Linked DNA regions of Homo sapiens: region 1 is linked to region 2. A link means that fine-mapping ties the variant in region 2 to the expression of a gene that starts in the linked region. Tissue or cell type: whole blood. Region 2 holds a variant in brackets; the other region holds the start of a gene. All regions are shown on one strand. Distances are between the middles of the regions. Region 1 holds the start of TSPAN14 (tetraspanin 14). Region 2 overlaps TSPAN14 (tetraspanin 14).

Evidence for each region. PIP is the estimated chance that this variant, and not a neighbour inherited with it, causes the effect.
Region 1: it holds the start of TSPAN14, and the variant in region 2 is fine-mapped to the expression of TSPAN14 in whole blood (TOPMed, PIP 0.98).

Annotation. Positions count from the first base shown.
Region 1 is chr10:80,445,707-80,460,506 of GRCh38, reverse strand. It overlaps TSPAN14 (tetraspanin 14), which reads right to left and starts at 6,197. Exons shown (of 9, transcript NM_030927.4): 1 at 6,136-6,197. RefSeq lists enhancers at 2,285-2,364, 5,082-5,131, 5,162-5,421, 5,371-5,888, 6,632-6,841 and silencers at 5,552-6,601, 10,620-10,914.
Region 2 is chr10:80,498,270-80,513,069 of GRCh38, reverse strand. It overlaps TSPAN14 (tetraspanin 14), which reads right to left. Exons shown (of 9, transcript NM_030927.4): 3 at 8,292-8,342; 4 at 5,696-5,842; 5 at 3,599-3,769; 6 at 801-926. Among named protein-coding and RNA genes, the nearest start is that of TSPAN14-AS1, 30 kb to the left of the region's middle. RefSeq lists a silencer at 12,943-13,237 and an enhancer at 14,753-14,800. The variant T/C (reference allele first, on the strand shown) is at 8,013.

The sequences.
Region 1 (14,800 bases), 53 kb after region 2:
CCACGGGATACTGACAGAGATTCTGTCCCTCACCAAACTTTATTCCTCTGAGCCCTCTACTCATCTGGTCCTGACCTAGGGTTCCTAACTCCATTCTCTCTAAGAGCCTAGTTTTAGCAAAACTCCTGTTAACCAGAATCCCCCAACCTCAATATCTAATCACCCTGGATATCTGAACGTATTTCTCATCCTGTACTATCTCCCAGGTAAAACCTGATCACCCTGGCCTGCCTGCAGCAAGAATTCAGTTAGCTAAGTTTAGTAAAAATTTCCCTACCCTCTTAGAAATTTTCAGGAGCCCCCACACTCCGCTCCTTGGCTATAAGTTCCCACTTTTCTTTGTTGTATTTGGAGTTGGCCCACTCTCTCCCCTCTACTGCAAAATCCATTGCGATAATTCCTACATCTATCGTAATAGTCCTGATACAGTCTACCTTACCAGTTTAACAAGTGTCAGAATTAAGTTTTTCTTTCACCAGCTCCCTAAGTCTTCCTGGACCCACTGCTCCCACCCCTCACTCAGGGTGTGTAAATTACTTGGTCTGGGGCTGTGGCTGACCTCCCCTAACAAGCCCCAGAAAAAGACCCTGTCTGCCTGGCCCAGGGACACAGGAGAGGACCCTCAGCACAGCTGGTGGGCACCCAGACTGGGGACAGACACACTCCTACTGCTGAGAGTCCCATAGCATCCCCAGGATCACCACTCAGACCTCGGGGTACAAACAAGAGATTCGGGAGAGGCCCATTTCCTTCCACTGCTGTGGGGCCTCTCTCCTGGATGTTAGGGCTCCGAACTCCTCTCAAGGCCGTGCAGTGTACAGGAGCACAGGCCCAACAGCTGGGACTGTCAACGCATAGTCAGGCAGGAAAAACCCAGAGAAGGTTCACTAGCCCCTTGTTCCAGTCCCTCCCCAAACCTTACCCATGCAGGACAGCCCAACTCCAGCTCTCCCAAATGCCAGGAAACACAAAGACTCTGAGGCAGCACCAGGAGCTCACCTCTTACCAGAATCCCAGAAGCCACTTTAGAGACAACTGCCCCAGCTCTCAGGCTCCCAGCTCAGGCCAGCACAGCCTAAGGAGGGAGGAGCCAGTTCCTCCAGCTATCTAGCTGAAAGGCACAGGCTCTAGGCCTTCTCCCTGGCTGCTCAGTTGGGAGGCAGTACAGACCGCAAGGGGTGAAGAGTTTCAACCCCAGCCTGCCCAGGCCCACTTAAGCTCTGGTCTCCAGGCCTGGCCTGCTGCCTCCTAAAAGAAAACCACAGCCCCACCCAACCCTACCCAACCCCACCAAGCCCAAGGGCGGAGGAAGTGAGGTTCCCAGAATCAGCTGCTGGTGAACACTTGCTGAGTGCCGCCAGAGATGGCAGCTGTCTCACACCAGTGTCAGGCCTAACTCAGGGGCTTTGGATCTTGCTTCTCAGGGTACTAATGCTTCACTGCAACCCCGTGAGACAGAAAAGGCAGACTTGATTCTTCTCACTTTACAGATGAGAAAAGTAGACAACTTTTTTTTTCCAGGAAGAAAAAAAAAAAAAATCAAAGACTTGTGTAGGTCACTCAACTAGAAAGTAGGTGCAACTTGAAAGCTTGCCTCACCACCGTCCACTCTGCAAGCTGGACAGTGTTATTCATCTTCACATCTTCACGTTTAATTGAGAGCGGCACTGGACACTGCCCCCCTGCCAGGGCCTGCGCTCCACCAAAATGGCTACTTGCCCTGTCTAAATCAAAAGCATACGCAATTAAGGGAGAAAATGGATGTGGAGATATTATGAATAACCTCCCTGATTCACAGTTACAGAGGACACTACTATAATGGAAGATAAGCAAACTGAAACGCTGGCATTCACCTAGACCAAAGACTCTCAAAACTTCATTCTACGCAGCTCCCTGGGTACTCTGATAGCCTGCCAAGAGTGAGACCACTGCTGGAGACCACCACCACCTCTCAATCCACTGGCAGAAAAACGGAGGCCCTGGAAAAGGTGGAAATATGCCTAAGCAGAGTGAGTTAACCATGAAGCAGAAGAACCTGAGGCCTCACCACCTCCAACAGTGTCTGCTGGCCCCGAGGGAAATCACCAGAGACCAAGCAGGTGACCAGGCACAAAATCAAGAGCCACAGTGTGGCTGACTCTTCAAAATCCTACTAACGTGGCCTGAGGGGGAAAATTTAACTAACAGGGTTCCTACTCCCTTCTACAGACCAGGGATCTAGCCCCACACTCAATCCCATCCCCAGTGGGAGTCCACCTTCAGTCACCTCGCTACCACTGCTTTCTACACCCCTATGCCTGCAAGCTCAATCCCCGAGTCCCACAAAAGTGGGGAGGACCAGGCCTGCCTGGGTATCGCTACCTGCTCCTGCTTCTAGGAAAGGTGGCTGCCCCTACAGGCCACATCCAGGTAGCGGATGGAACATGCAAGATATCCAAGGACTGACACGGCAGGGCAGAGACAGGCAGCAGGAACCTAATCCCCTTCCCATAGGCATCTTAAAGGCCACCAGGACTCAGTGGCAGGACACAGGGATCATCATGTTCTCTGTCCCTCTGTCCAAGCCACCAGGGGTGTTCCCACTAATCACTATGGGTCCCCCCAGTGAGGACAACATAAAGCAGATAAGTGATGAACATGCAGTGTGAACAAGAAATAAACCTCTGTTGCTTTAAGCCTCTGAGACCTGGGGATTGCTGTTACCACAGCAAACCGTGATCTGTCCAGACAGACACAAGCAGTGACTCCCCAATCTTCTGCATGTGGTAGTGCTGGTCTTCCCATTCCCTGGCCTTAGGGAGACAGAAGCTCCATCACCAATCAGCGGGGGTTCCGGGGTACCTGCTATGTGCCCAGGCTGTGCTGGACAGATGAGATGTGTTCAGAGGCAGGGATACAAGGGCACCTTCACTGAAAACATTCATTAGTTCCACTGTGGGCCAGGCTTGTTTGGTATATGAATCCATTTTAATCACCTCTGAGAGGAACATATTGTCTAAATTAGAAATGAGAAAACCTGGTCCGGCACAGTGGCTCACGCCTGTAATCCCAGCACTTTGGGAGGCCGAGGCGGGCGGATCACTTGAGGTCAGGAGTTCAAGACCAGCCTGGCCAACATGGTGAAACCCCATCTCTACTAAAAATACAAAAATTAGCTGGGTGTGGTGGTGCACACCTGTAGTCCAAGCTACTTGGGAGGCTGAGGCAGGAGAAGAATCACTTGAACCCAGGAGGCGGAGGTTGCAGTGAGCCGAGATCACGCCACTGCACTCCAGCCTGGGCAATAGAGTGAGACTCAGTATCAAAAAAAAAGAAATGAGAAAACCCAGCTCATATTGAGACTTCAAGCAAGTTACTCTGTGACCTCTCGGGACCACAGTTTCCTCATCTGTAAAATGGAGCTGTTGACATCACGGTTGTTTTGCTTTTTGTTTTTTGTTTTTTGAGATGGAGTTTCATTCTTGTTGCCCAGGCTGGAGTGCAACGGCGCGATCTCAGCTCACTGCAACCTCCACCTCCCAGATTGAAGCAATTCTCCTGCCTCAGCCTCCCAAGTAGCTGGGATTATAGGCATGTGCCACCACGCCCAGCTAATTTTGTATTTTTCGTAGAGACAGGGTTTCACCGTGTTGGTCAGGCTGGTCTTGAACTCCTGACCTCAGGTGATCCACCCACCTCGGCCTCCCAAAGTGCTGGGATTACAGGCATGAGCCATCACGCCCAGCCATCACAGCTGTTTTCAAGGATTAAATGAGTTATTACAAGTCAAACTTCTAGGGTGTAAGTCTCAATAAACTCACATTAGTATCACTATGAAATAATCTTGTCCTTCACTAAATTTTAAGCCAGCAAAGGTTTCCCAGGCCTGGCACAATGCCACTTTGCAGGCACTGCTAAAAGGAATTCTACCTCAGTTGAAGTTAAATGGGTCAAATTCCTGAGCACATGGTGGCATAGAGTGAGGCCTCAGGAAATAGTTCCAGAACCCAGGGCTTTCCTGCTCCCCGGCCTCCATGGGAACTTCACTTCACTGCCGCCACAACCTTCAGGGCAGAGCCATCTCCTCTCCCACTTCATACTGCCACTTCCTACATGAGAAGGACCTTCACCAGTCCTCAGAGACTAGCACAGCTGCCCAGCTGGTGAAGGGGACAATTCCCTGGGCAGCCAACCATTCTGCAGCTCCATGCCCTTTCTTCCTGGGGCAGCCACAAACCTTCAGAAGCACCCATGGGCTCAGACCCCCCCCACAACCCCGTCTCCCTAAATGATCCTGCTACGCTGAGATCAAGCTCAGATCAATAAACACTACTGAGCACCTATGCCATGTCCAGCCTGGGTTCTAAGACCACACCAAGTTCATAGCTGGTGAGGGACTTTCCAGACTTGGAATAGTGCCTGCAACAATGCCTCGCACCCCACAGAAATCTCAACCATGCTTTGTTAACTAAACTGAGGATGACATTAGGTGGCCCAAGCAGTGGAGTTCAGAGATGTGGGGATGGATATATCCAGAGTCTCCAACTGAAGTTGGGGTGCAACACAATGAGAAGGAAAGGGAAAATACATCTGGTGGCCCTGGGTTTCCAGGGCCTGTCACTATAACGTTAGGGATCGGAGTGGGATCAGACTGCGCGTGGTGGCTCACACCTGTAATCCCTGTGCTTTGGGAGGCTGAGGTGGGAGGATCACTTGAGCCCAGCAATTTGAGGCTATGATCACACCAGCAGCTAAGGGGATAGAAGGGCATACAGGGCCATTATGGTGGAGTCTGGGCTTCATTCTGGGGGTGCCAGGGCCCAGGAAGATCCCTGGAAAGACGGCCGCCCCCACCAACCACTCGGCTAGCTGAAATGTGGCAAGGACATAGGGGTGCTCCGATGGCCTGTCCCCAGGTTTCCCTTCACAAATAGAGAAGGGTGGCCGGAGCACTCAGCAGGCACTAACTGCTTCTGGACTTCAAGGTCAAGGGGCAAGGGGAAGGCTACTTTTGAGGATTTGGCAGGCCACTCTCTCACTAGCCCAAGAGCAACTCCCTCTCGGAAGGGAGGAAGATCCCCTGGAGAGCAGACCACTGCCAAGAGCACACCTGCAGAGGCTCCAATACAATGCTCTGCACAGCCGCCCAGCACCGCCTGACCTCCCGGATAGCAGCGCCAGCACAGCCAACGAGTGTGTGACACCGCCGCACTCACCACCGCTCTGCGCCCAGCCCCAGGCCAGTACCCGGGCCCACGACTTCCCCCGACTCCCCCTAGCACGGACTGTTTCTCGCCGGAGATCAACTTTAAGTCCCCAAGACAAGTGCTCCTGCGGTCCCAGGGCCAAAGTCCCTCCACACACCCTCACACAGGCACTTCCTACCCACCCGCACCCCACCCCTGGGGGTGGAGGAGAAGCAGCAGCGGCCCGGGACAAGCACAGTCCGCAGCCACAAACCTCACTCTACCAGAACTCCGGCTAGGTCAGGGGTCAGGCTTTGCTCCCAAACACAACCCCACACGACTAACGCGGAGAAGCTGGGTCACCGCCTACTCAAACTCCGGCCGTCCCAAACCCAAGCCGGGCAGAGTGGGACCCACGGCGGCGTGGGAGACTGAGCACAACCACGGCGGGGCAGGAGGAAGGGGCGGCCCGCCCCGGCCTACGCCCACCCCCACCCCGGACCCGATCTCCTGGGAGCCGAGGGTGGGTGACTGAGCCGAAAGGGTGGCCCATCCCCGAGCTCGCTGCTGGGGACGAGAAGCAGAGCCCCGAGCAGCAGCGGCCGTCCAGGCTCCCGTCGCCCTCACCCCGCCCGGCACGGGCGCGCACTCGCCGGGGCGCGCTGATGGGGCGAGGGCTACCGAACCAGGAGTGCCGGCCCCGGGCCCGCCGCGGCTCTCGTCCGCGCGGCGCCGGAGTTCGGCTCAGCGGGGTCCCGGCGGAGGCCTCCAACCTCTAGCGAGCAATCCTGGCAGACAAAGCCAGCGCCGCCCGCGGGGCCGCTCCTGGGCAGGCGGGGAGGGAGGCTGAGGGGCCAAACAGGGACCTAAGGAGCAGCCCTCGCCCCCGGAGAACGCTCGGGGAAGTCGGCCTCAGACAAAGAAAGGGGCAGGGCCCGACGCCCCAGCCAGGTCTCCGCGCTCTACTCACCCGCGCGCGGCGGCGGCAGCGGCGGCGCGGCCCGGCTCGGCCGAGGAAGTTAGAGCAAGTTCCGCGGCGCGGGGCGGGAGGGCGCGACTCGGGCCGTCCGAGCGGCGGGGGCGGGGCGCGGAGGGGCGCGGAGGGGCGGGGCCGGAGGCGCGGCGCCTGCCGTCTGCCGAGGAAGGGGCGCCGCTTCCCTGCGCCGCCCGGTGCGGCCCCGGGCGCCTGGGCCCGCCCTGGCCCCGCCCCTCCCCCAGCCGCCTCGCCCCTCCCCCACCGCACCCCGCCTCCCGGCCCGCGCGGCACCGGGGACCGCGAGGCCGGGTCGCCGGCCCGCCCCTTTGTCCCGCTCTGGGCGGTGCCGGAGGCTTGGGGCGGCCCCGGTCCGCGCCCTCCCAGTGGGTGCGCGGCGCAGGCCGGGCCTGGCCCGGGGCCGGGCACTTGTAGCCGCCGGGAGCGCTCTGAGCCGTTGCGCTGCGCAGACGCCGCTCTGGCCTTGTCGGAGCCGAACCTGGGAGAAGCACGAGCTGTGGGAGGCGGCGTCTCGAGGGATACACGGGATGACCGTGGAGAGCGGGCGAAGGATTAGGAAAATGGCTGTGGTGGAGATAAGAGGCGTTCCTGCCCGGCTTTGGAGCCTGGGGGCGGGGGTAGTCTTCAATCAAAAGAAGGATGGGGAAAAGGTTTTTATTTCTTTGTAAACCAAGGAGTAAGGACACGCTCCTTCTGGCCTTGGTGCTAAAAATACCAAGCTTTCTTTGGATCGTGGCTGAGATTTCTTCCTAACCTTTACGCTAAAGAGGTGGCTGGGACGATTCTTGTGGTGTAGGGGGGTTTCCAGGGACAGCCAGGGGTGGCGCCCCTCTTTGGATCGTGGCTGAGATTTGTTCCTCACCTTTACGCTAAAGAGATGGCTGGGACGATTCCTGTGGGGTAGAGGGGTTTCCAGGGATAGCCAGGGGCGGCTCCCCAGCCTCAGCCTCCCTACCTGTAGAATGAAGCATGCCACACCTCTGTTTCTTAAACTTATTCGGTGGCTGAGGGCCGAGTGGTCTTCTCTGTTGAGTAACACCAAACAGGGATCTATTAAAACTGGGCTAAGACTGGTTGCCACATGCCAGTACAAGCAACCAACAGGTTAATTCCAATGGAAGGAGGAAATCTTGAAATGGAGACTGTTCAGTCCATTCCCAGGTTTGTTTGGGTTGTTTTTTGAGCTAAGGTATCGCTTTGTCACCCAGGCTGGAGTGCAGTGGCATGACCATGGCTCACTGCAGCCTCGACCTCCCGCCTCAGCTTCCCCAAGTAGCTGGGACCACAGGTGCAGGCCACCACACCTAGCTAATTTTTTTTTTTTTTTTTTTGTAGAGACGAGATCTTGCTGTGTTGCCAGTGATGGTCTTAAATTCCTGGGCTTAAGCAATCCTTCCGCCTCTGCCTCCCAGAGTGCTGGAATTACACGCATGAGCCACGGTGCCTGGCTAATTTTATTTGTTTGTTTAATTAAGAGGGATGCAACCTGTCTGTGACAGCCCAGGCAGCTCTGGAAACTCCCTGGGAACCTGTCCATTCATTCAGCAGATAGTGAGTGTTTGTCTGAGTGCCTGATAATATGCCAGGCCCTGTGTGCATGGTGGGATACTTCAGTGAACAAGACAGCTGAGGCCTTTTGCCCAATAAAGTTAATTTTTAGTGGAGAAGACAAATACATAATCACAAGTTGAAGTAAAGGCTGGGACAAAAACAAGGGGCTAGAATAGAGAATAAAAGCTACCTTAGATGAAGCAGTCAGGGAAAGTGAGGAGGCGATGCTGAAATTGAAGTCAAAAGAGTAAGGAGTTAGCCTTGGGAAAAGTTGGGCAGAGACATTCCTCGCTGAGAGCAGTAGGTGCCTTTTCAGGGTAAGTTCTGGATGGGTCAGGGAACTGAAAGAAAATCAGTGTGGCTGAAGTTTTAAGCCTAGGGGAAGAGGCCCAGGATGGAGTGAGAAGGTGGGTGGGGGCCAAAGCATGCAGGGCCTGTGGGCTGTGTCAAAGAATGGAGACTTTGTTGAGCCTTGGAAGGGTTTTATGCAGAAGACTAACATGTTCTGATTTAAGGCTGTGTGTGGGTGTCAGGCAAAAATAAAAGCAGGGAGCCAATTAGGCTTGCCACAATCCAGGCCAAAGATGATGGTGGTTTGAACCAAAGTGGTGGTCATGCTAAGATGAGTAGTTGAGAGATGCTATTTTGGACTTAAGAGGACACATTGATAGGAAGGACATGGGGGCAGGAAATGGAGAAACCAAAGATAACTCAAGTTTCTGGCTGGGGTAAGTGGGTGGATAGTGCTTCATTTATTGGATCAAAAAGCATGAACCACATCTCAGGGAGTTACATCAGGAATTCTGTTCAAGCCACATGGAGCTTCAGATGCCTGTTAGAGAACCAGCGGGGTTATCTCATCACTAGGAACTCAGAAGAGAGGCCAGGGCGGGAGAGGGGCTTTGGGATACATCAGCATAAAGATGCTCAAGGCCACGGGATCTGAGAAGGACACACAGGGTGAGGGAGTAGATGCAGAAGAGGAGAGAGTTCAGGAGGGACCCAGGGGAACCAAAGCAGGCAAGAAGACTGAAAAAGAGACTGGGGAGGCAGAAGGAGAATCAGGAGTATCCCAGAGACTGAGAAAATGTTTCCAGAAAGCAGTTGTCAGCTGTGTTAGACACTGCTTAGAGATCAGGTAAGATGAGGACTGGGACCTGTTGGCTCTGGCAACATGAAGGCAATTGGTGAACATGATGAGGGCAGTGTTCCTGGAGTAGTGGTGGAAGCCATGCTGTGGTAGAGCTACCATATTTGCACAACTTGTCTAACAGGGAATGGAGAACTGGGAGGGATCTAGAAAGGATACGGAAGCATAGGATGCTTTGGTAGAGATTGCTAGATGCCCCTAGTAGTAATTCTCTCTTCCCTTCATAGAATTTCTAATTCTGTCTGGCCACATGGCTTCCCAGAATAAAGGCAAGTTTCTCAGCCTCTCTTGCAGCTACACTTCATTCCTCCCAATAGGAAGTAAGTGTAGGAGTCCATGTGCAAATTCAAAACTGGCTTTAAAGGGAAGTCATGTGCTTTACTCTTTCCTGCCCACTAGGATATATTAATAGATAGCTGGAGCTCAAGCATCCATATTGGATCTTAAGTGGAAGCCAAAGTGTTGAGGATGTTAGTGGAAGTGAGAATAAATGTGGATGCTAATGTGTAGGGAGCCACCACACATTTGGACTACTACCTCTTGACTTTCTTTATGGGAGAAGGACATTTCTGTCTTGTTTAATCCTCTGTTTTATGGCACATGTAGCCACATCTAATTCTAACATTTGTTGGAATAAAGAGGGGTTTGTTAAAATATGGGAGTCACTGAAGCAGGCTTGCACACTGATAGGAATGATCTAAGAAGAAGGCAGGGGCCATGATAGGAAGAGCAGGTGAAAGGAGATAGGGTATAGGCACTAACGAGGGTCACCTCCTACAAAGGGACGCCTCCACCATCATTAAGGAGAGGAGTGTGGAGGCCGAGGAGAGGTTTCCGGTAAAGGCTGGGATTGGGAAGATGATTACTCACACCTGGTGATTTCTGCTCAATCCTGCATGTGCAGGAGGTCATGAGCTAGAACAAGGAGGAAGGAGATGGGGAAGCCAGTTTTGCAAACCATGGACTGAGCGGTTTTGGAGATCTTGCTGGCCTGAGCAGCGTCTGGGAGATGTGTCCTTTCTGGAATAGTTGGCCACACTGCTGCTATGAAAAGTGTGGTGGGAATACCCACAAAGCCAGCATGGCCTTCCCTGCCATGCCCCAGACAGTCACATCTGACACTCACCTGCCATTCCCAGCTGTAGCAGAGACCCACAGAGCTTTATCTGACCCATTCTTTTTTTTTTCCTTTGAGACGGAGTCTCACTGTGTCACCCAGGCTGGAGTACAATGGCGTGGGCTCACTGCAACCTCTGCCTCCTGGATTCATGGGACTATAGGCACGTGCCACCACACCCAGCTAATTTTTTGTATTTTTATTAGAGGTGGGGTTTCGCTATGTTGGCCAGGCTGGTCTTGAACTCCTGACCTCATGACCTGCCCACCTTGGCTTCCCAAAGTGCTGGGATTACAGGCGTGAGCCACTGTGCCTGGCCTATCTGATCCATTCTTACAGCAACATGGAGTGGCTTGAGAGAGCCTCAGAGACACGAAATGCAAAACAGGTCTATTTTATTCTCCTTTATTAAAAAATAAAAAATTCAATATAGACAGCCCCAACTCATAAAAGGGTTGTATTGTAACCAGTGGTTTACCTTCCTGGCTAGCACCTAGAACCATAATTGCCAAGCATATAACTGAATTGTAGTGCAGACTGCAAGCCTAATGTATGGACTGTGGGAACAAAAAACAGTATAGGAAGGAGGAAAAGAAAAAAGCTGAGAGTTTCTTATCTTTTTCCTGGACCTGAAGCTGCCACAGATAAAATTGTAAGTGGAAGAGCTTGCCCTTTGTCTTCCCCTGACTTCTATAGCCCTCTGTGTCGGTCCCCAGTGCTGCACTCCCACCCTGGGCTCCACTCTGCAGCCTCTGTGTGTGTTTACAGGGCAATGGGCAGGTCAGGGTGAGATTGAACAGAAGAGGGAGTTGGTGTCCAAGCTCTCCTAGTTCTCAACATGATCTTGAGCAAACCACTTTACATTCCTGAGCCCTGCTGTTCTTATCTGTAAAGTCAAGGTAATACTAAAACCCACCTCACAAGCTTGTAATAAAAATCCAAAGAGATAAAGTTTGTAAAACTTCGAAAAATACTGGGTAAGCTGTAAAGAACTCTGTTACCCAGGAAAGATGTCTTATTAGGACCAGACTACCAAGGATTAGTCGGGACATTTTGGCTGGAAATGAGAACCCCACTCAGACTAGCTTAGGTCATCAAAGGGGAGATACTGGAAGGAGCCTCAGATTGCTCACAGAATTGAAAGAAGAACTTGAAACCAGAGTGACACAAAACGGGGCTGATCCTGACAACGTCCCAGAACGGGGGCCCTACCCTCTGTTTCTCCTAGTTCTCAGAGTTTGCCATGTCAGGTATGTGACTGAGTAAGTCTACACTCTTAAGTCGGTATGAACAAATCTCAAGAAAGGATCGACCGGGCATAGTGGCTCATGCCTGTAATCCCAGCACTTTGGGAGGCCAAGGCGGGCGGATCACTTGAGGTCAGGAGTTTCGGACCAGCCTGGCCAACGTGGTGAAACCTCGTCTGTACTAAAAGTAGGAAAATTAGCTGGGTGTGGTGGCGCATGCCTGTAGTTCCAGCTACTCAGGAGGCAGAGGTGAGAGAATCGTGCTTGAACAGGGGAGATGGAGGTTGCAGTGAGCTGAGATTGTGCCATTGCACTCCAGCCTGGGCGACAGAGGAAGACTCCATCTCAAAAAAAAAAAGAAAAAAGAAAAGAAAAGGATCCTAATTGGGTCAGCTCTGGTCACATATTCACTCCTGGACCCATTCTTACAGCAACATGGAGTGGCTTGAGAGAGCCAAACAAACTCTGACACAACCAGCGTGATGAGGGAGATGAGATATCGTAATTGGACTAGGTCTGGGTCACATGCCCATGCCTATGATCAGTAGGGCAAGGCCTATGCAGAAGAAGGGGTAGTGGTGTGTGCAGGGCCAACATCATCATTTTTAGCAGTCTTCTATACCAAGTATTCTTTAGGCCCTGGGCAGGTTTTAGGCAGAATGGTGACATTGTTATATCTGTACTTTAGAAAGATCCCTAAGGCTGGAGTGGGAAGGGAAGGTGGGAGGGAGCAAGATTGGAATAAAAAATGGTTAGAAAAGAAATGATGAGGAAATAGAAAGAGGTGGACAGAATCAAGATATATTTAGGAGCTGGAACTGACAAGTGACTAATTGCATGGGAGAATGAGGAATAAAGAGACATCATATTCTGGCTGCGTGGGCAGTGGCGCTATTCACTGAGAAGGAACACAAGAGACCCTGTGTGGATGTATAATATGTTTGGTGAGAGGTGATGCCTTAGACCTCTTCCATTTGAAGTGTTCCTGGGTAGGGTGGAGAGGTGCAATTTGCTGTATGGAGTTAAGAGAGACAGCTAAACAGAAGTTATCAGTTTGGAAGTTGTATCCATTTGAAATTGTGTTTAGCTTTTCTAACAATAACCCAAGGCCAGGTGCGGTGGCTCACATCTGTAATCCCAACACTTTGAAAGGCTGAGGCAGGAGGATCACTCGAGCCCAGGAGTTTGAGACTAATCTGTGCAACATAGTAAGACCCCATCTCTTTAGGAAAAAAAAAAAAAAAAGAAAACAGAGAGAGAGGAGAAAGAGAAAGAGGGAAAGGAGGGAAAAGAGGGAGGGAGGAGGGAAGGAAGGAAAGGATGGAGGGAGGGAGGGGAGAGAAAATAGCAACACAACTACATTGCCTTAACTACATTCAGCTTTCTCGCTGTAGTTGTAGGAAAAAATTCTGACACAACAAGAAGTCTAAAGGTAAGCAGAGCAAGGCTGATCAGCAGCCCCACAACGTCATCAGGTCCCAGCTCCTCTCTGTTGGTGTGTCTGGCTCTCCTTAGGGGACAGAGTTGGCTTGTGGTCATACAATGGCTGCCCCAGCTCCAGCTTCCCACCCACATTCCAGACAGAAGAAAGAGCAAAAAGAATGAAGGGGCAACACCTAAAACTTACCCAGAAATCCCCAGACTACTGCTTATGCCTCACTCGCCGAGTGCAGTCACATGACAAACCCTAACTCCAAAGGAGGTTGGGAAATGTTTAAAAAATTAACTCCTGTTTTAAAGAAAGAAGGGAGAATCGATATTGAGGAAGCAGTGTGTGATAATTGAAATCATCAGAGTAGAGGAGATTATTTTGGGACTGGGAGATGAGAAAAGGACCAAGGACAGAATCTTTGGAAAACGAGAGAGCAGAGGGACCAAAGAGACTGAGGAAGACTGTCCAGTGAGGTAGGAGAAAAGCCAAGAGGGTGGAATGGATGGAAGTCCAGGGGCAACAAGTGTTTCAAGAAGAGGGGAGTGGTCCAGTTTCCAGGGCTGCAGAGGGCCAGTGAAACAAGGCTGAAGAGCAACCATGGGGTTAATAGCTTCAGAGAACTGTTTCAGTGGAGAATTGGGTCAAAGACAGTTAACAGTGGGCTGAACAGCAATTGGAAAATGAGAGAGAGGTTGTTAACTGGAAGATGATGAGGATAAGCAGTTGCAGGAGGGTGTTTGTTTAAGAAAGGAGAGACTTGGGCCAGGCACGATGGCTCATGCTTGTAATACCAGCACTTTGGGAGGCCCAGGTGGGAGAATCGCTTCAGCCCAGGAGTTCCAGGTGAGCCTGGGCAACATAGTGAAACCCTGTTTCTATTAAAAGAAAATAACAAGAAAAACAAAGGAGAGACTCAAATATGTTTAAATGATGAAGGGAGAAGGCAAGAGAAGAGGGGAGATAAGAGAGTCTGAAGGAAGAGAGAAAACGCTTGCTGGAGAAGGTGGGAAGGATTGGTGTTCAGAACAAGAGGAGAGCCCCAAACTGGAGGACAGCAGGACCTTCATAGAGACAGGAGGCAGGAAGACAAGCTGGGTGAGGATGCAGATGTTTGTGGGTTCGGTGGGGCTTCCTAAGGGAAGGGGTCCACTTTCTCTGGAAGTAGAATGGGCACCTGCTGAAGGTTAAGTGGGTGTTGGGTGGGATCCAAGGATTTCAGAGAAACCTAGGAGAGAACGAGAGACACCTCTGAGCAGGGGCAAGCAGGAATGTTTGGGGAAGGGTTGCAAGCCCAGCTGCAAATGGAGACCCAGAGTGAGAGTGACACACATCTCAGATTACATGACCTTTTTCATCAGTACTCAGCAGCTGGAGTATGTGCAAGTGCAGAGAGCACAGACAGCAGGATTGATCAAAATCTGGGGTTTGCCGGGAGAGCATGATAGAAAAACAATGGTGCAAAGGATTCCAGAAGGTTGGAAATAAAGCAGTTGAGGTGTTGTATCCTGAGGCTTGGCTACTAGGGGAGAGAAGTGACAGCTGGAGGGGCTAGTAGATAGGGGGAAAGAAGATGAGGCTGCGGCTGGAGGGCCCTCAGCATGTGAAGAAGGGAGATACGGTGACACAAGGCTGTGGTCAGACAGAGGTGTGTATCCATGGGACCAGGTGATTGAGATGGAAGAAACGGAGAAACAAATGGCCCTGAGGGTGAGGAGGTCAGGACCAAGAGGCTAGTGGGAAGATGGGTCACTCCATCAGTATATGGCAGGACTTGGAGTGCAGGCAATGGCAATGGGTTAGGCGCCAACATCTTTGGTAGAACTTTTACTTCAAGGTCAGTTTTGCACTGGTGTTGCCTTTCTTGAAGAAAGAGGTTAGGGAGCCTTGGGGAAAAGAGAACAGAAAGGAAATTTATTTCTTGGCCTGTCATTCTATACTTGGCCTATTTGTTCCAGAACAATCTATTTTAAGGAATCTGCAAACTTCTAGGAGGTTTCTACTCTTATTTGCATCTACAGCCTCAGCCATGGGACCTCTGCCTGCCAGTGGCGTCCCCTGCAAAGAATTAGGACTAAGATTTGTGATAGGAGCCCATGTGTGAGGATAAGACACAGTGGAACACCCTTTAATTATAGCATCTGAGA
Region 2 (14,800 bases):
AAAAATTAGCCAGGTGTGGTGCTCAAGCCTGTGGTCCCAGCTACTTGGGAGGTTGAGGCTGGAGAATTGCTTGAGCCCGGGGAAGCAATGGTTGTACAGTGAGCTGAGATCGCACCACTGCACTCCAGCCTGAGTGACAGAGTGAGACACTGTCTCTAAAATAAAACCAAACAACAACAACAACAACAACAACAACAAACAGAAAATAATTAGCCGGGTGTGGTGGCGTGCACCTGTAATCCCAGCTACTCAGGAGGCTGAGGCAGGAGAATCGCTTGAACCCAGGAGACAGAGGTTCCAGTGAGCCAAGATCATGCCACTACACTCCAGCCTGGGCGACACAGCAAGACCCTGTCTCAAAAATAAAAGAAAGAGAAAAAGAAAGAAAATAATTCTCCACTACTGTTCCCCAGTTAATGATGTGTACCCACAGCCCCCGTGCACTGTTGAGTTCTAGGAATCTGCTCCAGAAAAAGGACAGGGAAGAGGGATAAGCGGGCCTTATTTCACTCATAGCTCTTGGCCAGCTGCAAGTGACAGCCCTCCAGGTAGAAATAATACTGTTTTTCTCCTGCCTCACCCAGAACACCAAGGCCAGGGTGGGTCATGCAAGCAGTGTTCCTAGAATGTACACATATCGGATTTCAGAGCTGAGGCAGCCTTGAGGAGGGTGTGGAGAAAGCACACCTGCTCCTCAGACCTCCATGACAGAGAAGTATCCTAGAGCACTGGAGGAGTCAGGAAAGCTTCTGGGCTTCAGGAAGGGCGGGCTCCCTGTGCCCCAGCACAAGCCAACTCACCGCAGGATCTGGCACGCAGCAGGAGAAGGGGACCCCGCACTTCTCTCGGCTGTAGCTGGCACCGCTGCAATTGAAGTAGACGTTGAGGTCCCAGTCTTCAGGGCCATATGCGCCACAGCACTGGTTCTGCAACCACAAAAGCCAGAACTGTTAGGGGCTCCAAGACAGGGCCATGGCTGCCCAGCATAGGGCATCATTCATAGTGATGCCAGGCTAAGTCTGCCGGCATCTACCATGCAGAGAAATCAAGGCCCGCCCCCTACCTCCCATGTGCAGAGATGCTAAGCTGGCAACCCAGGCAGCCCTTTAAGAAGAAAACAGCTAGGCGTAGTAGCTCAGGCCTGTAACCTCAGTGACTCGGGAGGTTGAGGTGGGAAGATGGTTTGAGCCCAGGAGTTGGAAACAAGTCTGGGCAACACAGCAAGACCCCCACCCCCAATCAGAAAGAAAGAAAGGAAAGAGAGAGAGAAAGAGAAAAGGAGAGAAAGAAAAAAGGGGAGAGAGAGAGAGAGAGAGAGAGAGAGAGAGAGAGAGAGAGAGAGAGAGAGAGAGAGAGAGGACCTGCCCTTTTGATGTGTTAAAGAAAATAATAACAAAAAGGAAATGGCAGTGAAGGTATCTCCGGGCCACGGTGCCTCCTCTGTCCAACCCACATGGCTGGCTCAGTGGAGCCCTCTGGCCCCACTGCCAGGCACAACATACCCAGCCCTGGCCCTCCTTAGCAGGGAGCTTGCTCTTCTTCCCAGCCTCCTCAAAGGAGACGCCTCCTTCCAGCCTCCTCAGACAGGAGAGTGGCGTCCTCTCCTTTGTGGCCCCCTCGGCACCTTGGTGTGGTCCTCTACTTGCCACAAGAGAACACTTCCTAGTGTGCAGTGTTCTTCCTCCCTGAGAAACTTGCAAGTGAATTCCCCTTTTCACCCCTTTACAAAAAACAGCTGCTAAGTGTCTGCTCCTGAGGAAAAGAGGTCCGATGAAGGTGAAAGGTAACACAATCAAAGCTCTGCCCCACACCTGGGGCCTCTGCCCTCCCCTTCCTCGCATCTGGTGTGGCTACAAAGAAAATCCTTATTTGACTAAAAAGTGTGTAAAATCCAAACACTGAAAGCATCATTGTGAAGTTGACAGTGTCTTTTCCCCTAAAAAACTTCTTTGCATTTGCCCTTACAGCTGACATGGTTATGGCAATAATCACAACAAATGACAACAGTGATTTCTGGTTGGTTATTTTGTTTTGCTTACTTCTCAGGTAAAATTGTCTCCCCCACACCTCCACGGTTCCACTTGCTTTAGTGATTACCTGAAATTTCACTCCAAGGAAGCTCTGTAATTTACTGAATCCCTCCCCTGGGAAGTTTTGTTTTGTTTTGTTTTAATTTATTTATTTTATCTTTTTTTTGAGACGGAGTCTTGCTCTGTTGACCAGGCTGGACTGCAGTGGCGTGATCTCGGCTCACTGCCAGTTCCGCCTCCCGGGTTCACACCATTCTCCTGCCTCAGCCTCCCGAGTAGCTGGGACTACAGGTGCCCACCGCCACACCCCACTAATTTTTTGTATTTTTAGTAGAGATGGGGTTTCACCATGTTAGCCAGGATGGTCTCGATCTCCTGACCTTGTGATCCACCCGCCTCAGCCTCCCAAAGTGCTGGGATTACAGGCGTGAGTCACCGCGCCCGGCCAGAAGTTTTATTTTTAAAAGAAAAAGAAGTCAATGCAGAAAACTATGTTTTTAAGGCAATGCAGGGATGAACCGCAACCTAGCATGCTGAGACCAGGCAAGCCAAGGCTACGTGAAAATGAAAAAAGGACGGTGGCACTGAACAGAAAAGAAAGGAGAGGCATCAAAACATGGCGGGGATTTGGTGACTTTCACAGACTAATACACATTAGTAATAACAATACAGGCAGGGTCTTTGGTCCCATAAATGGGTTTTGCTGGATCCCATAATACATGAAATAAAGGTGAACAAGTTTTGGTTAATAATGAGAGTGAATCATAGATTTTTAATGGTTTCTGATTTATTTTCTTCTCAAAACCAAAGTGTTCCACATGAAAAGTTCTTAAGGAAGCTGGGCTTTCTGTCAGCACACAGATCAAACAAGAGCCTTGCATTGCACAGGCTGACATGGCCAAGGAGTGGGTTCCTCCCCAGGGGGCTGTGACAGCTATGGTCCAAGCGTCCAGGTGCAGCCACACATGAGAGAGATAAGAGGGATGGGGACCAGATGGAGTAAAGGCCATAGCCTGGAACTGCTTAGACAAACCCCTGGGCACATATTCCAGGGAGGTCACATTCCACTAGATCTGACAAAGCTTCCTCCAGGCAGCCCTGGCTTCTTAAACAGGAAGGGGAAAAGGTCCCAGGGAGGAAGGGGAAAAGGTCCCGGGGAGGAAGGGGATAGGAATAGCGTCAGATGGTGAGTCATGAGCCGGGGGGAAGAAGCTGTGCCTTACGGTATGCAGCGCCTAAGGAGGATTGCAGCTGGTATGGCTATTGGGCAGGATTGGAAAGATCTGGGGCCGAAAGAGGAGGGCCGGGCACGTGGGGGGTGGGTGGCCTCGGGTACAGCTGGACTTGCCTGCCCAATCCCAATGGGAAAGGGCTGGCCCACCAGGCAACCACAAGCCGGCAAAGTGGAACAGACCAGAGGTGGAGTGGCTTGTTCCACGGCCTCCCTGCTGTCTGCCAAGCTGCAGGCAGACAACCCACAGAGAAGGCCTGATGCCCCTGCTAGACTCAGCTCCAGGCAGCACAGGGAGGTGCATGCTCTATCGGGGGCCCGCTGGGGAGGTGCTTACAGCTTTCTGAAGGGAGTCGATGAGGTTTTGCAGATCGATATCGTCCCGGTAGGACTTGATGTTGCTCTCGAAGAACTCCCGGAACCGGTCCCTCACCCAGTCCTGGAACAGGAAGGCCAGCACGGCCACAGCCAGCTCCAGGAAGAAGATGAGCACGATGGTGCCACAGAACTGCAGGGGAAGGGGACGGGAGCAGAAGTCACCACCCCACCAGCCTGCACCCCCACACACATAACCCCACCTGACCCAGAACCACCATCCTCAGCAGAGCGTGGGCTCTGCACCTGAGAGTCCCACATCGGGGCCCCAGAACCCCACACTTAGAGTTAGCTGGGTGACTCTGCACAACTTCGCTTCATCTGTAAAAAGGGGCTATTTATCCCTACCCATGTCACTGCATTGCTGATAACACTCAAATGCGTGAAAAAGTGTGAGAAAGCTCCAAGCCAATGTGTCAATCACTTGCTATGAAGCAGCCCTCCTCCCTGGACAAGGAGGAGACCCCTATCACAGGAATGAATGGCTGTCCTACCCCAGCAGTTCCACCTGGACCCTCCAGGGTGGCATCCTGGGGTGTCGGCTCCTTTAGGACAGACACTGTGCCCAAGACATTATCTGATGACTCCCCACTACACACACAAAACCATCGAGTGCCTACGTATCTGTTACCTCACTTTAGGGATGAGGAAACTATGGCTATGTCACGAGGTACATAGCTTGCCTGAGGTCACATAGTTCATGCAGGACATGTGAGTTCCCTGCAGGGCTCTTTACAATTCTGGAAGTGCCAATGTTATCTGTACCAACTCTGCATGAAAGTATATGATCGTCAGCATAAAGACCCCTCCAGAAGCTCAGCTGCCCCAGGCCACAAGCAGTGGTGGCATTCTGCAAGGGGCCAGTGCAGCCACAGGTCCACATCCCATCAGGGCAGACTCCCAGCCTGCAGTCTGCGCTCTCACAGACATTATCACTGGCCATATAAGACACTAAGCAGCTTGCCACAACCGGCCAATTTGGAGTAATCTTTCAAAGTAAGAAAAAGCATACACACGGCCGGGCGCGGTGGTTCACGCCTGTAATCCCAGCACTTTGGGAGGCCGAGGCGAGAGGATCACAAGGTCAGGAGATGGAGACCATCCTGGCTAACACGGTGAAACCCCGTCTCTACTAAAAATACAAAAAAAAATTAGCCAGGCATGGTAGCGGGCGCCTGTAGTCCCAGCTACTCGGGAGGCTGAGGCAGGAGAATGGTGTGAACCCGGGAGGCGGAGCTTGCAGTTAGCCGAGATCACGCCACTGCACTCCAGCCTGGGCAACAGAGCGAGACTCGGTATCAAAAAAAAAAAAAAGAAAAGAAAAGAAAAAGGAAACACACATATGCACACAAGGCCTGCCAAAACGTAATCTCTGTTCATATAAAAGCAAGATGCTAAACATAGCTTTTCTTTTTTTTTTCCAGAGAAAAAATTAGGACAAAAAGCCCATAGTTTTGCTTTTAAAATTATGTCCAAGAAAAAGAAAGCTTGATCTAATGAAGTCAACAAACAATATACTGCAAAATATGATAATGTGTTTTCCCCACCAGGTGTTATTTAACTGAATAAATCTAAACATGAATTTGTATCTAAATATAAAACTAAACTCTTAGTAATCTGCAGTTCTGCCAGGAAATTTGGGATTCTGACTTGTACATCCAACAGACTCACACATCCTTGGAGGAGGGAAATGATTTAAGGTTACTTGCAACATCTTTTGATCTTAGCCAGGAAGGGCAAAGGACAGTAGCAGACAAACAATTCTTTTAGAATTTCTGAAGGAAGATAAAAGGCAAAGGAGCGGGGAGTAGAGCTGGCCTATAGGCAGCTGGCTCCTCCCACCCAGGGCTAAAAACCAGAGGGTACCTAATTCTCCTGCTGGGAGGAACCAGCTTCTCTAGACAGTAGAGTGCAAATGGCTGCCTCCTGCTCCCAGGCAGGGGCCTAGGGGAGGCTCCTAAGAGCTGCCACCTGCTCTGACCAGGTAACATATAATCCTGCCCAGCAGAGCCTGTACCCCATTGCATCCTATCCCACTCTTGTCTCTGTGGCCACTCACAAAGTTGAGCAAGCAGATATTCTCCCGCAGAGCCCCCACGCAGCCGGCGAACCCCAGGGTGAACATCACCACGCCCACCATCAGGACCAGCACCACAGGGTCGATTCCATGCATCCGGGTCACTTTGGTGAGGTCGGACAGCACACCCTGAAAGAGACAGAGAAAGCAGGGCAGCACTGGCCCAGAAGGGGAGTCAAGGATGCTGCCCTGGGGGATGCAGGTGGTACTGAAAACAGGGACTTGCTTCCCCAGGCTCAGCCCTCTTGTTGACAGCCAGGCCAGAGTCCGGCCCCATCCATGCCCTTAGGGGCCCCTCCGACCAGGCGATCCCTGCCCACCTCAGGTCCCAGAAAGTGTTCCTGGCCTCCACCTACGCTACAAGTTCCTCCTAGGCAGCCACCAGGCTTCTTCTGCAGCCTGTGGGGTGCCTATTCCAGGCCTGGAGGGAAACGGGGCCCTGTGGCCTGTGGTCAAACTGGTCACCCAGGTGGCTGACCTTGTTAGTCCCCCAATTTGGCACCTAATTAATGAAGAACACTACTCTTCTGAGATGAAAACAGCCTCAATATGAACACTCTAGTAGAAAACACGCCCAAGGGCAGGCCAAAGCAATGCTGTCCATAGAAGTTTCTACACCAATGGAGGTGTTTTAGACTATACCCCCACTGTCTGGCCACAGGTATCGTGGAGCACTTGAAATGTGGCTAATGAGACAGAAGGACTGAATTTTAATTTATATTCAATTTCAATTTAAATATAAACACAGTCACACAATGGGCAGAGCAGTTCCATAGGGTTTGTAAAACGCCAAGGGGGAAGCTAAGCCCTGGAGACTGAGTCATGTAGCATGTTTGCAATTCTGTTTCTTAGATTATGGTTGAACTAAGGGACCGGAGAGACCACAGCCCCCCTTCCAGTCACTGATCTCTGTTATAGTTTAACTGCTTCCTTCATTGTTCTTTACTAACTCAGATCAGATATCATCTAAGACCCAGGGACAATTACATCTTCAGTGTGGAATGTTAAACATACCTTTCCTGAAAGAAAAAGACCGCCTCAACTAATCAGAACATTGTGACTAAGCATCAAGACATACATAGGTGTCTGGGCATGGCGGCTCACGTCTGTAATCCCAGCACTTTGGGAGGCCGAGGAGGGCAGATCACTTGAGGCCAGGAGCTCAAGACCTGCCTGGCCAACATGGCAAAACCCCATCTCTACCTAAAAATACAAAAATTAGCCAGGCATGGTGGCACATGCCTGTAATCCCAGCTATTTGGGAGGGTGAGGCACAAGAATCTCTTGAACCAGGGAGGCGGAGGTTGCAGTGAGCCAAGATCCAGCCACTGCGCTCCGGCCTGGGCAACAGAGTCTCTGTCTGGCTTTGGCTGGATAAATGATCCCAAGCTCCTACATTTCGAACAGGAAGGCTGACTTCCATTCTTTGGAATTTGTGCTTCCTGGGTAGGCCTGTCCTCAACATGTGTGCTTGAATAAACTCTCTCTAAACTAGGTTCTGGCCTTTTCACTTATTTTAGATCGACAGATTCAAAGGAATTGTAGTAGCCAGCTCCACACTCAGGGCCACACCCAGTTAGGCGGCTGCAGTCCCAGGGGAAGCCACACGGTGGTGCTGTGAGGCACAGATTGAACCTGCTTCTGGGTCACTGGGGCAAAGGGACATCGTACCCCAGCTCTTGCCCTTTAGGGGTTCACAGGCCACTTGGAAGGTGCCCAAACCTGAAGGTGGGCCTTATCCAGTCCCTAAGACCATGGCAGGAAAGCCTGTAGACCTAGGTTCTCCTGCCTCCTCCTGCTGGAAGCAAAGGGAGGTTCCACTGAAGGAAGAAGGCCTAGGCTCAAGACACTAGAGGAAGCTTTATTCCTGGCTCTTTCTGGCCAGGCCTGCTCCACCTTACTGCTTCCCTCCCCTCCCCTCTTCCCTCCCTGGCCTTTTTCAGCCCTCACTGCCTCCCCAGCACCCCTGCCACAGGGCAACAAGCAGCAGCACAGCCCCACCCTGCCCATATCCAGTCTCATCCCCTTCCTGGAGCCGCAACTGCACCATGTCCTTCCCGACAGTAGGAGCCAGGTCTCCACTCCTCCCCTCTCCTCCTGAGGCTGGGCAAGGAGGCCCAGAGGTGCTTAAAGGCCCACCCCTGCCCCACAGGGCACCCTGGGGGCATGTCACCCAGCCCCGCTCCCTGCTGCCTGCTCTTTCTCATCCTGGAGGATAAGGGCTTCCACAATAAGCATGCCTGTATTCAGGGACCTGCCCGCTTGCTCCCAGAGGCACAGACAGGGTCAGGAAGCTGGA[T/C]TGCCCAAGCCTGCTCTGGGCACAGCTGCATACAAGAGCTGAGCTCTCCACATCCACAGGGCTCAAAACCCAACCAGCCCAGCCCATACCTCCAGCAGCCAATACTATCATGTGGGCAGAGTACGCAAGAGCTGTGTCTGTAAAGATTGACAATTATACACCTTGACACTGCACAAGAAATGCTTGTTGTCAGGGAACAGATTGGAGGAGGGAAAATGAAGTCCAACGAATCTGGTTTTGGCTGCCTGAAGCTCAGTGTCCTGCGACAGTTACACCTACCTTTTCGCTCCATGCCCACAGCCCGACTCCAAGGAAGACAACTCCAGCCAACTAAGCGGGGCAGAGGAAAGAGAGAAGGAAGTTAGGTTGGAAACCAGCACTGTGAACATGCTTCACAGAGCAAAGTCCACACTGCCAGGTAGGGCATGCTCCTAGCTCACATCCCACATGGCCCCTCAGGCCCCGCAGATGACAGATAACCTGAACCTACCTTCCTGAATATCTGGACAAACTCCTTCAACCTCAGATGACCCTATGCCCCAGGGAAGGAAGAGGAAAAGATCTCAGAGCGGACTCCACCCTGGAGAGACTATGGGTCACAGACATCAGGCTGTGCTGCTTCTTCCCCTTTCTGCAACCCTGAACTCATTTCAGTGCACTATCTGGTGTATACGAAGACATCACCCCTTGGGAGGGCTGACCCAGGTCCCCTCAGAGGTTCCCAACACAGGATGAGACTGCATAGGACCAGGCACCACCACAGGGTGAGGACAGGGGGAAACAGCCCAGCATCTCTGCCACACACCCCAGCTCTCCAGCCCTGGAGATAGACTCCAGGCACAGATAAGCAGCTATCCAGTGGCCCAGGCCATTCACTGGCCAGGGCTGAGCCTCCTCCCTACTGTTAACTACAATGAGCAGGGGGCGCATCTATGCTCAGGAAAGGCTGGGCTTTTAGCTAGAGAATGAAAATAGGCTTGCTCTAAGCAATGAGCTCGCCCCAGAGGAGCACCACCCCCAACCCCAACTTCCCACCTGCAGGAACCCATACCCCATGTGCACCACAACAGAAAGGCGCCCACCCAAATACATCACACAGGTTCCTGAACCAGGGAGGGCTTTTCCATATACAACAAAACACAACGTGGGCTCTGTTAATAAAGCTGCCTCCTGTTTTTCTGTGACTACTTTACACCACACTGGCATTTCACTGCCATTTATCACCATCTCACGATAAATAACAGGACCACGCTTCTCTATGACTACCGGTGATCTCAAGCCTTGAGCCACTTCTACCTATTTTACTCAGTAACTAGCCCCAGGGGCTAGAATGGAAAGAAAGGGCTCAAGGAAAGCCCCAGGAAGTCTCATCCAACCTGAAAGTGATCTGTGATCCAACCTCTTCTGGATCACAGATCACTTTCAGAAAATGCACACATGCCCAGTATTTTGCATGAAATTTTAGAGGGGTCACAGCTTCCCACTGCTGGCTCCCACAATGGTCTGTGAACACTAAGTAAAGAACCCCCACCAAGAACCAATCCCTCCATTTTACAAAAGCAGAGCACTGGGGCCCAGGGAGGGCCAAGACCAAAATGTCAGGCAGTGGGGAGAAGGGCTGAATCACAAGTCTCAGTTCATTCATTCACTCCTCACTCATTCATTCAACAAATATTCACGGAGTACATCCCGAGTGCCAGATACCGTCTCAAGTACTGGATACAGCACCAAGCCAAGGGGGTAGAGCCCTTTCTACCATATCACACCACACCCTTTTCCCGCTTCTCAGTCCTCCCCCTGAACTGACTAGCTGGGAAGGGTTTTCCTGATAGAATGCATGACCGCTTCCTTTCCCTCCCCAGGTGTCTTACACTGGCATGCTGAGCAACCTGAAGGTGACTGGTCACCACCTGCCGAATCCTGCAGGCTCCATCCCCACCCATCTTATTCAAGGCCCCCAGGGACCTGCCTCCCTCTTGCCAAAGCTGGAGGCCAAGACTTTTCCTCATGGTATCTGACCTCATTGGTCACAGCTGGTCATTCTCTCCTCCTCCAACCATTCCACTGACACACCCTGCTTCGGGGACCCCAAGCATATGCCCCTGACTGCCTTCCTCCCTGCTCTTCCTCCTCCTCCTCCTTCAGACCCCTCTAGATGCTGGTGGGCCTCACTCACAGTCCTAGCTCCTTCACCCTGCCCTGAGCCCTCTCGATGATCTCATAATTCACAAGGCTTAAATACCATCTAAACATTGCTGAGTGACACACTCAGATGTCCAGTCCTGGCCATGCCCCCGGTCAAATACCCTAATGTCTACTTTACTTGTCCTCCTAAGACAGCTAACGATATTTTACTCTTACTGTGCCCCACTACGCAGCCTTGGTCCCCCAACCCCAACCGAGCTCCCCCCAACTCTTCTCCGTCTCATTCAGTGGCACCACCGTCCACCCAGCAAGTGTAAGAGAGAAAACCCAGACCCCAGGCTTGGTGCCTTCTTTCTCTTTTGCCCTACACTCAACCCAGAGGACCCTCTGCTGGTTCTGCCTCCAAATACACAGTGCATTCGACCAGCTTTCCTCCAGTGTCTCTGCTCCCACCTGCCCCGGCTCCACCCACTCGAGTCTGGATCCCACGGGGCTCCTCACTGGTCCAAGCAACAAGACTGACCCTTCAAAAATACAGAGCTGGGAACTCCCCTCCTCGAAACTCTGCAGTGACTTCCCACGCAGACCTAGAAGAAAATGCACGGTCTCTCCCATGGCCCCCAAGGGCCTCTGCAGCCAGGCTTCACACACATCTCCCACGGCATCTCCTTCCCACCTCCCTGCTCCAACGCCACTCCCTGGGCCACCCTGACATTCTTGTTTCTTGAAGTCATCAAAATCACCCCTGCCTCAGAGCCTGGACACTGTTCCCTCAGCCGGCAATGCTCTTCCTCCATATCCATTCCTGGCTCCTCCCTCACTGCGTTCAAGGCCTCCTTTTACCACCCTGAGTGGAACTGCTCCCCATCCTCCATGTGTGACCTCCTCTGTTGATTTTCTTCGCGGCACTGATCCCAGACCACAGGGGCTGTCTCTCTATTGTGTCTCCCCAGCTAAGCCCTTCTGAGGCCAGAGATGTTACCTGTTTTGTTCAGAGTTGCAGCCCAACAACGAGGAGGGCTTGGCCCTCAGTAGGCACAGAGCAGGCATGAGTGACTCCCCAGGATTCAAGACCAGGACAGTGCTTGCCTGGGTCCTTCTAGCTACCCCCAGGCACACTTCTGGGTGTGATTCAATCCAAAGGCATTCAGAGCAAATGTGGGCCAAGAAAAGCTCAGCCTGGCCCAGGTGCATGGGTCAAGCTCTATACAGGGGCATTTGCCTATGGTCAGAGCAGAACAAGCCCAGAGGCCGATGCCCCATCCAGCATTCCCAACAGACATTCCAGCCCCTGCCTAACAGCTTTCCATGACAGTCCGCTCATCCTGTGGGGCCACATGGGACAGGTGAGAAAAGTCTACCTTAAGGACACTCAACAAAACCACTGCTGGAGCTCCCCTCTCTCCTCCACACTGCACTTCACAGCTCACCCCTTCTCTCACCTTGACTACTAAGTCTGACTTCTAAGGGTATTGTTTCCCACATTAATACCAGCCTCAGGCTGAGAACAGTGGCTCACAGCAATTTGGGAGGCTGAGGCAGGAGGATTGCTTGAGCCCAGGCGTTCAAGACCAGCCTGGGCAACATAGCAAGACCCCCATCTCTTAAAAAAAAAAAAAAAAAAAAGGTTTTCTAAAAAAATTAGCTGTAAAAAAAAAAATGCCTGTATTCCCAGCTACCAGGGAGGCCGAGGTGGGAGGACTGCTTGAACTTGGGAGGTCAAGGGTGAGATTGCACCACTGCACTCCAGCCTGGGTGGTAACAGAGTAAGACCAGGTCTCCCAAAAAAAAAGAAAAAAAAAAAAAACAGCGTCAGTTCCATCTATATTAATAGGTTTCTGTGAATTCACGCTGAGGTGCTGTTTTAGTTGTTTTGTTCTCCTAGGTGACTAAATAGTGACTAAATAGATACAATAGGAAGAGGTGACTGGTTTCACAAAAGGAATTTTGGTCTGCACAAGTTCTCAAAAAAGACCCTCGACCTCAAGAGCAGTTCATATCCCCACCCTCAGGGGCACAGTGCCCATGCAAAGGTAGGCCTGCTCCTGCTCACCTCTGTTCCAATCGCCCCTTCCCCACATGCAGGGCCGCTGTAGGGCCGCTTACCGCTCTGCATATGGCCCACAGACCACACCCTCCCTCGCTTGCTGTTCTTCTCAAGGCCCCCAGGGAAAGCCCTGGCTGACTCTGTGTTTACTGGGGAAGCCAGCTCCCCACCACTGCGTGCAGTTCTCTTTCTCTCAGCTCTAAGAATAAGGACTTGGCCAGGCGTGGTAGCTCATGCCTGAAATCTCGGCACTTTGGGAGGCCGAGTGCTGGGAGGCCCAGCACTTTGGGAGGCGGATCACCTGAGGTCAAGAGTTTGAGACCGGCCTCACCAACATGGAGAAACCCCATCTCTACTAAAAATAAAAAATTAGCCGAGCGTGGTGGCACATGCCTATAATCCCAGCTACTCAGGAGGCTGAGGCAAGAGAATCACTTGAACCTGGGAGGTGGAGGTTGCGGTGAGCCAAGATCACGCCATTGCACTCCAGCCTGGGCAGCAAGAGCAAAACTTCGTCTCAAAAAAAAAAAAAAAAAAAAAAAAAAAAAAAAGAATAAGGCCTTGTGTTGTTTTCATTCTGTTTTAAAGGAAGAACTAAAGTTAACTCACACCGGAAAGACAGGAACTTGGGGATCACATGTCAGATCATGGGTTCAATGAACAGTGGCCCAGGGCAGGAACTCTGAGTACCAACAAACCTGGTTTCAGAGACCAGGAGATTGAGGGAGGACTAGACAGGGGAAGTGATCTGCCTGAGAGCTCACATAACGGTCCCATGAATGAACTGGGTCATTGGCCCGCTTCACCCCACGGAACCCTTCCCTGGAACTCTGCAGCAGATGGTCCATGGGGCCAGGCCAGGTAAGCCCTGGCTGCTGTGAGCCCTGGCTGCCAATCTTCTGGGAGTGAGGGTTCAGCTGAGTGCCCTCCAGCCTCAAGTGACCTTCTTTGTCTCCCTCCCATGACCTAATTGAATTACCTACTGAAGAACGGGGCCCAGCTCCGGCCCAGCTTGAGGAGAGGCCAGCCTCCTCTGCTGGACCAGCGAGCACCTAAACTGCTATGGTCACTGTGAATAGCTGCCCTTTCCTGGGAGCTGTGCGCTGCATTAAATACTTAATGGACCTAAGGCTATCCCTCCATATCCCATAACTCTGGCTCAATTACCCTCATTTTTCACATGGGAAAGCTCAAATGTAGAGCAATTTGGTCCTTTGCCCAAGGTCACACGGCTAGCTGGTGGCAGACTTAAGAACCAAACCTGGATGCCTCTGACCCTGGCAACACAGTATCTTACCACCCACAGAGCAGCTGCCTTCCACACACGGGCACTCACACAAGAGCCCGGGGATGTAGGAATTCCACAGGGGGGCTTTGGGGTTGTGCAGCTCTACAGCCAAATGACCCACACTGTCAGGCAGTGAGACCACGCTGTGTCCCAACCAGGGCAGGTGGACAAGGCAGCAGGGCCTCTTTGTGGGTCACTGTGAAGATTAAATATTGACCTTTCACCTTAGGCAAATGACCTTGCGAAAGGCAGGAGGTCCTCTTGGGGCACTCTGGGCTGGTCCAGCCAGAGTCCAGACACAAGAAATCCACTTACCACACGAGCAAGCTTGTGGTACTTTACCCAAGCACAATCAAGTCACAAAAGGAAGTGACACCCGGCCAGGCCCTGCTGAACTGGAGGAGAAAGATGCAGCTCCAAGCAGGTCAAAGGCAGCCTCTCACCCATGATTTAATGGCCTTGGCTCCTTGCAAGATTTCATTTAAGCGTGTATAAAAGTACTTGGCAACTCCTGCAGGCCCCAGAGGCCTTTCCTCAGCAAGATCAAGGCGAATCACCAGCAGCAGGCGATGCTCTCAGGCTCTGCCCTGCTGGCCTCCGGGTCTTGCACAATCCACACGCTGACTCAGCCTGACATTCACAGAGCCTCTTCCCCTGAACAAAGCCGGCCCTGGGTCCAGTCTCTGCTTTGTAGCTACCTAGTGACAGGGCCTCATGCGAGTCCAAGACCTTCTCTGAGCCTATGTTCTCTACAAAACAGGGATTATCTTTCCTAGGTCACAGGAAGGTTGTAAAGATTGAAGGAAGATCCTACGTGACATGCTTACTCCAGGCACAGAGCCAGTCTCAAGGTGGCCATGCCCTCCCGCACGGCAGACAGAGCAGAGATGTGAGGGGCGTTCAAGGATATGCCACAAGCATCTGCTGTCCTGAAGACAGAGTCTCCTTCTCTTGACACTGGTGTTCTGTACCCCACCCCCAATTACTTCCAGCACCAGCTTCTGTCCTAAGACCAAGTGCTTTCCAGAGGCACCTGTTTTACTGGGCTTCTGGAGACAACAGTGAAGCAGAGCTTAGGGAAATACGGCCTTCTGGAGGCTTTTCAAGTGAGGTAGGAAAGGATGATGGAAAGAAAACAGCAGAGAGTGGAGGAAGCCAGGACTGAGTCTCAGCTTTGTCCCTAACTCACAGAGTCAGGGTCTCGAGGAAGCCATCCCTCTCCTGGGCCTCAGTCTGTCAATCAGCAAAATAAGCAGCAAGGACCCATGCACCTCCCACTGGCTGAGTTTTGCCATTATAAATTACACC